Homo sapiens: one gene and its partner. The protein of the gene in region 1 purifies or fractionates together with the protein of each later gene. This does not show direct contact. Each region holds a gene or a part of one and is shown on either strand. Other genes may lie near its edges. The genes, in order: LOXL1 and KCNIP1.

Evidence for each region.
Region 2: the proteins of LOXL1 (region 1) and KCNIP1 purify together in Homo sapiens (affinity purification with mass spectrometry; one large-scale study listed by BioGRID and IntAct). This does not show direct contact.

The regions. Positions count from the first base shown.
Region 1 is NC_000015.10:73,946,730-73,950,545, forward strand, and holds part of LOXL1 (lysyl oxidase homolog 1 preproprotein), read left to right. Parts: intron 1-337; coding exon 338-494; intron 495-1,077; coding exon 1,078-1,173; intron 1,174-2,729; coding exon 2,730-2,845; intron 2,846-3,816. UniProt on the Homo sapiens protein: Catalyzes the oxidative deamination of lysine and hydroxylysine residues in collagen and elastin, resulting in the formation of covalent cross-linkages, and the stabilization of collagen and elastin fibers.
Region 2 is NC_000005.10:170,716,885-170,720,700, forward strand, and holds part of KCNIP1 (A-type potassium channel modulatory protein KCNIP1), read left to right. Parts: intron 1-1,873; coding exon 1,874-1,998; intron 1,999-3,436; coding exon 3,437-3,506; intron 3,507-3,816. UniProt on the Homo sapiens protein: Regulatory subunit of Kv4/D (Shal)-type voltage-gated rapidly inactivating A-type potassium channels. Regulates channel density, inactivation kinetics and rate of recovery from inactivation in a calcium-dependent and isoform-specific manner.

The DNA of each region.
Region 1 (3,816 bases):
GCCTTAGCCAAAGCTAGGCTGGAAGATGGATATAGAAGGATTGGTCTCAATCAGGGATGGAAATGTCTAGAATACAGGGCATTGCCCAGTGAGGCCATTACAGGTGGGAGCCCAAAAAGGAAGTGAGGGGTCTAGAGCATGTGCTGTCCTGGAGTGACCCAGCTAGGTGGGGAGCACAGAGGGGCCACCCCGCAGTACTCAGGAGACAGGAGAACCTAGACCAGCCAGGAGGCTGTGCCACAGCAGGGTCACCTGAGCCCATCTCAGGATGGGGACAGGATGAGAGGCCCAGGGAAGACTAGGCCCTCTTCTTTCTCCTTCTCTCCTCTGCCCCTAGGCATTACCACAGCATGGACGAGTTCAGCCACTACGACCTACTGGATGCAGCCACAGGCAAGAAGGTGGCCGAGGGCCACAAGGCCAGTTTCTGCCTGGAGGACAGCACCTGTGACTTCGGCAACCTCAAGCGCTATGCATGCACCTCTCATACCCAGGTTGGGCTGGAGAGATGGGGTTTGGGGCATGGGAGGATAAGGAGTTGGGGAGGCAAAGAGCGAGGCCCGCTGAGGCCCGGCAAGTGCCAAGGCTTCTGGCCACTCAGCTCTGCTCACAGTGAAGGTCTTCTCACCAGTCCTCAGGCTGCCACACTGCCCTGCAGGGACTGTTCCCTCCCTGCCCCAGCCCCTTTCCCATGTTATTCCAGGTGATCTGCTCGTGGAGAGAAGGAAACATCGCAACAGTCTGGAGAGCAACACGTCCTATTGGCCTGTTCACCCACCCATATCCCTCTTTCCATCAGCCACCCTAAATATCCACAAACTGTCCATCTGTCCTGTCTCTTTTTATCCATTCTGCCATCCATCTCGTCCCTCCCACCTGGCTATTAGATATCTGTCTTTCCTCTGGTCCATCTAGCCAGTGGCTTTAGGAAGGTGTGGACCCACCCTGAGCAGTTGCCCTGGGCCAGGGTCAGGGGAGAAACCCAGGGGAAGGTGGGCCAGAAACTCCTGAAGGTGGGCGTGGGGTGGCTCTGGGAAACAAGCAGCATCACAGCCGCTCCTCTTGTCCCTTTCCCAGGGCCTGAGCCCAGGCTGCTATGACACCTACAATGCGGACATCGACTGCCAGTGGATCGACATAACCGACGTGCAGCCTGGGAACTACATCCTCAAGGTGGGCCTCTGGGTCTGGGGCTTTCCCTCCAACCTGATGTTCATGTCCAATGTCCCCCCGTTCCTGAAAGAAGCTTCAGCCTCTGGGCCTGTTCCCTTCTCCCCAGCTGCCGAGCAGAGGCAGCATCTGAGGCATCACTTGAGGTTTAGGCTTCCCAGCCGAAGATTTAGGTCTCAGGCTGACATAGCCTCTCTTTCCATAAAGAACCCAGGGAACCTTTGCCCCAGCTGTGGTAATGCCAGAGGCAGTGGTGATACTGTCTCCCTAAGTGACAGAGGACCAGGGAGAGCAAGAAAGACTTGGAGAGCCATGTGGTCTATCTTCCTGTCTTCGGACAGGGCAGACTTTGTATCATTTGGGAGACAGATGAGAGGCCCTCAGCTCCTTATAGGGACCCCTGCAAAGCCAAGGGCTCCTGTGACTAAGACCCTTTTAGCCTGAACCCCTCCTGCTCTAATGGACACTCACTCCATCACCTCTTCCCTTGGTTGAGGGAAAAGTAGAAAAGCATATTAACAACACACATCCAGACTTGGTACATCCGTGTAGGCCAGGTTGTCATGGGCCCACCTGGGGAAGCCATGTCTCAGCCTCCTCCACACAGGTATAAAATGAGTAGGGATCATTCCACCAGTTCATCTGGACCCACTCAGAAGCAGAAAAGCAGCTCAGTAAAGGCAGAGCAGTGAAGCCAGGTTTGCAGGCGGAGGCCTTCCCTGCAGAAAGTCAGCAGGTGGAGAGATGCATCCGGCAGCGGTTCTCTGCAGTTCCCTCCTGAGTGCTCTTCAGCAGGCTCCAAGCTTGCTCCTCCAGGGCCTGGGGTTGTCCAGTATATTTTTTCTTTTCCTCATTCATCCACTCAATCAACATGTAGGAAGTCCCCTCTGAGTTCTAGGCACTAGACACACAAACCACATAAGCAATGCAGTTCACAGTCCCTGCCCTTTGGGAGTGTACCAGGATTTGAAAGTTGCATCCCTGCATCTGTTCTTAGATGTTCTGCAAATAAAGCTGGCCCTACCCTAGTTAATCCAACATTTAAAAGTGTTGTATCCCAACAGCTCCTTTTCAGACAAAAAGCACAGATCATACTTGGGCCATCATCTCAGTGAATGTTGGGCACGTGGGGCTCCAGAGCAGGGGATCAGACAGGCCCTCGATCAGTCACCTAGACAGGGATGCATAGGGAATGACTTTGAGCCTTGGATTTGGGGAGACCAGGTGTTGAATCCTGGCTCAGCTCCTCATTACTGCATTCCCTCGGGCAGGATCCAACCTCTCTGACCCCAAATGCCCCATGCGGGGCCCACCTGGCATAGGCTCTAGCTCTAGGGAAACATCCAATCTTCTGATAAGGGGGATTAGATGATGTTTTCTTGGATTACCAGCTGCCTCTTCTTTCCCCTCTGTGTCTCTCTAGCAGTGTGTCTCTGTTCTCCCTCTCTCTGTCACCTCTCTGTCTGTCTGTCTGCCTCTTTACCACCTTCTCTGGTGAGCAGTTGAGGTGCAGCCCCCCTGACTAGACTCCCTTTCTCCCTGTTTCTCTTCTTCCTCAGGTGCACGTGAACCCAAAGTATATTGTTTTGGAGTCTGACTTCACCAACAACGTGGTGAGATGCAACATTCACTACACAGGTCGCTACGTTTCTGCAACAAACTGCAAAATTGTCCAGTAAGAGTTTGCCCACCACCCTTCCTGGCTCCGTCCCTTTCCTGCCTGGGGAGCAGGCAAGGCCACCTGAGATACCTAAGATACCTGCACTTTAGGTCACCTTGATGGCCGAACGCAGCTGCAGCAGGGCCCATCAAAAAGAGCCTTGTCCGTGCCAACCCCAAGCTGAGTGTTTACGGTGGGGCTCAGGCCGTAGGGTGTTGATCTGGGGCTGCATCCTGTGGCTCCCTGAGATGTCCCAAGTGAAAACCAGCAGAAGGCAGAGTCATTTGATGCAAGGCCATGAGCTCTGCAGTCCCAGTTCCACAGCTTCCTCGCTATGTGACATTGGGTTACTTCCCTGAGCTACTTTCCTCAACTATAAAATAGGTATTTCCACATAGGCTGGCAATGAGGATCTACAGGCCTGATGTCTGCATGTTCACAGTGGCACACAGTGAACAGCAGCTGTGATCATTAGTGTCCTTTTCAAGTGGACTGGATTAAACAGTCACAGATTAGAAGTGATTCTGGTTCAAAGGAGCCATCTTCAGTCCCTAGGCCCCCATTGTAGAAGAAGTGCCTAAAATCTGGGCTTGGGATTTTGGCACATGCTGCTGGGTAGGGTCCTCAGTCTTTCTCCTGATTCCCCATGTGAAGTAGTTTGCAGAGGGACCCCTTGCTTACAAGCTCACAAGGAAACCCCACCACACTCCAGATCGAAGCAACCCTTTTCCATTAAAAAAAAAAAAAAAAATTAGTCCTAGAGCTTTCAGCTTTAGTTCATCAACTGGGAGAAAGGTGGTAGAGATCTTAAGGCCCAGAGAGGTATCTTTCCCTAAAAGTGTGTACTTATTAATGGATGGCAGGTATGAGAGATTAAGCCTATGACTATGGTCAGGGTGTGGTGTATGGCCAGGGTCAGGATTCAGTCTGTGACAAGGGTTAGGGCTCAGTGTGTGACAAGGGTTAGGACTCAATGTGTGACCAGG
Region 2 (3,816 bases), on another chromosome or scaffold:
GTGTACTGGATGTCTTCAAGAATACCTCATTTACTCAAAAAATACAATATTCCCATTTTCTTTATTTGCATTTTAATGTGATTTTTGCTTCATCTCCTTTCTTCACTCAAGCCACCTGGGCCGTACCCAGGGAATTCCTAAGGGGCAAAAGGAGGGATGTGAAAACCTCTGCAGCCCCTTCGGAAGTTTCTTGTGAATATATGCACAGATAAACAGATGTGCATTTTAAAAATAAAAATGCTTTTAGATCTAATGCTAGGAGATTCAAACCAACAATTAATTTCTCTGTTAAAATGGGTTAAAATAGATGTAAAATATTAATATGTATATAAGCATTCTGAATTAGACTTATGTGAATTTTTCTCCTTTTCTTTCTTTCTTTTTGAGAATAAGCCCTTTCATTTACGTAGAAATGCTTCAGCGTTTAGATAATTGCTACTTATCTTGTTAGCTACAAACACAACCATAATTAAAGGCTCTGTAAGAATTATGAATTCTGGGGAAATTGGCCACTTGTCTCTGTGGCGTAAACAGTATCTAATTTATAACAAATCATCTGCCTTAGTCCCAGCAGGATAAGGTGATATGTATTGCCCAGCACATGAGAAAGATGGCAATTAGGAATTGTTACCAAGTTACGGGAGCCTCACACGAACATCCATCACCTTTGGGGATATGTACAAGATACAAACTTAATTTGATGGATTCCTTTTGTATTGGGATCAAAGTCTCAAAAGGGAAAGTGACAATTTCAGGGAAAATCTGGTGCAATGAGACCAACACTGATGAGAGAAATGCACACAATTTAATACACCTGCTCACCTGATGTGGCAACTCAGCCTGTGCTTGCTGTGGGTTGCCACAGGATGAGACATGGTCTGTGCATATTCCCAGCAGCCACCCATCTCATCACTATTCTTGCCAGCCCAGATTTACAGTTGTTCAATAGATGGATTTGGTAATATCTGCATGACAACAACAGGCAGAGAAGGTTAGATGGCAATTGATTCTTGATTGGTGTAAGTTTATAGAACACATTCTGGCAGGGCCCAAAGGAAATCACTCACCTACCCCTCTGTGATGGTAAAACGTTGAAAATTCCACGGACTTGGACCTTGTGATCCTTCAGTGGAAGATGGGCAGATTCCTTGCTTTAATTGACAGACACTTTCTAAATAACTAATGCAATCTTATATTACATTATAGTCCATAAGGGAGACATACTTAAACTACTACTTACAACAACTGTTTTTAGAGCCTTTCAAATGGTTTGTACAAAGTAGCTCCCATTTAAGATATTTTCCTAGTATTTAAGGCTATCTAGTAGACATTACAAAACAATACGCTGTAAATACATTCAGATTTTTATCAGTAATACTTAACATGCCGTAATTTGAACTTTCTGCTAAATCATGCTATCCATTCCTAGTTGGCCCCAATGGTGAGAGTTTACTGTTTCTTTAAATAATTTTGTTTCCCTTTGCTGTCTAGAGGTGTTTATCATTCTGCTTACTTGCCTGTGTCTCTGGAATATTCAGAAGGTTCCATGGGAAACAATTTGAATATGCAAAGAAGTTATTTTTAAAGCAAGGAAAATGTTTTCATATGGATTTATTTTGAGCACTTCTGCCTTTGCCTCCACTGGGAACATGTTTCTCTCCAACGCCGAAGCCCCCTCCCTGTGTGGTGTTTGACGCAGAGGCTGACAGGGCAGGGAAGTGGGGTTCAAGATAGGAAGGCCATTGGCAGTGTGACCCCAGCCCACAGTCCTAGATCCCAGGTCGTGACACCACTCTTTTGACAGCCCAGATTGTTACCTAACAAGAATGACTCCCAAGCTCAACCATTCCAATGCCATCTCCTCTGGTTCCAGATAAGATTGAAGATGAGCTGGAGATGACCATGGTTTGCCATCGGCCCGAGGGACTGGAGCAGCTCGAGGCCCAGACCAACTTCACCAAGAGGGAGCTGCAGGTCCTTTATCGAGGCTTCAAAAATGTAAGACCCGTGCACGCTCTGAAGGCCTGGGGGGGGTTCCCACGTGAGGCTACACTCTCCCCAATGCCAAGGGAGCTCATAAGGCGTTTCCCATATGTGAGGCTGTACAAGGAAGGCCAGCTCTATAAAGGGGGCATGAGAGGGAGATCACCTGGCTAGAAAGGAAGGCTCCAGGCGAGGATGGAGCAACCTCAGGAGACAGTAAACGGCCAACTGCCCAGAAATTTCACAGGGTGGCACATCCTCAAGGAATTCACCCTGGCCCAGGGTCAAGCCTTAGCCCTTAACATAATCATACCTTCCAACCTGGTGGTGCCCCCACAATAATGGGATTTGGCCCTGCTGACTTATGCTAACCAGGCTCACCGAGACTGATGTGTAAGCCGAATGTCGGTGTATTAATTTACCTTGGGAAATGGAACTGACAGTGGAAACAGACACTCCTCTCCCTTCGCTGGGACCCGCTCTCCTTGGAAGCCACATGGAAGCCAGGTTACAATCAAAAGTGGAGTCAGAGGACGGGAGTTCCTTGTTTAGTTGTTACTTTAAATACATTAATGTGTTCCTGCAGTCTCAGGCCAGTTTGAGAGCTCTCAGATACAATCCTGGATATTAATTTATTTTTTAAGTTTAACTCTCAGAGTGCAATCTTATTCCCAAATCCTGGAGTGGTGTGGAGTGGGGTGGGCTACAGCGACATGCACCTGGTCACCCTCCCTCCAGGTGCAGTCTGTAGGTAGAGCTGAGCTGGGTCAGTTCCAAACTGACCACAGCCTCAATGTTCTCCAAACTGCTGACCCACAGGGATTCCAGCCCCTCCTGGGAGTTATCTGACAGGTGCTGGGATGCCTCTTCCTTCCACACTAGCCTTGACTGCACATGCCAAGTGCCCAGTTTCCTACCATTAGGGCTTCTTTCCTTCGATGGCAGCATTAGCAGTGGGCAGCCGAGTTGGAGAAGGATCCTGTGGGAAAGTTTTCCAGGCAGGCACTGGGCTCAGAGGGAACAGCATCCAGAAAAGAGAAGAAATCTACACTGCTTGGCATCTACCATGGACTCAATACCACCTAACATAGGTTCATAAGATACCCTTGGGGAAGTTATTGTTACCCCCATTTTACAGGTAAGGATATTGAGGATCAGAGACTGGCTTGGCCAAAGTCACAAAGCTTAGTATTGGCTGAGCCAGGATTTAAACCCAGGTTTTTCTGATCTTAAAGCCCCAAATCTCTCCACCTCACAGTGCCCATTCTCTGACAATGTCTCATCATTTTGCAAAGCAGCTCCAGTCCTGAGATGGCACTACTTGGGAGAAGTGGAAATGCACAGGTCCCTGTCCCTGGGGATCATGAGGAACCCCAGACACCAAGGCTGGGCCCAGTCTTCTCCTAGTGCTGGCCCTCAAATGCCTCCCGCTGACTCTCTCCCCTTCCCACAGGAGTGCCCCAGTGGTGTGGTCAACGAAGACACATTCAAGCAGATCTATGCTCAGTTTTTCCCTCATGGAGGTGAGTCTGACCTTGAAATCTATCTTGCCCAGCTCCCTCTCTGGTAAGCAGCCTTCCCTTCCTCCAAGTCCTCTCTTCCTTGCCATTTGCTTCCTTCTCGAGGAAGAGACAAACTCAGGGCAGGACACCTCCCTCATCGTGAGAGGTGGGAGTCTCCAAAGCTTTAGCAGGAAAGAACTCTGAAAATGAACCCACCCTGGAAGGGGAAGAAGGGCTGATAATGCAACATCACAACGTCTCAGAACAGCTCTAGAAAGCAGGTATTATAATCCCAGATGGAGTAACTGAGTTTCGGGGAAGATAAGCAGTG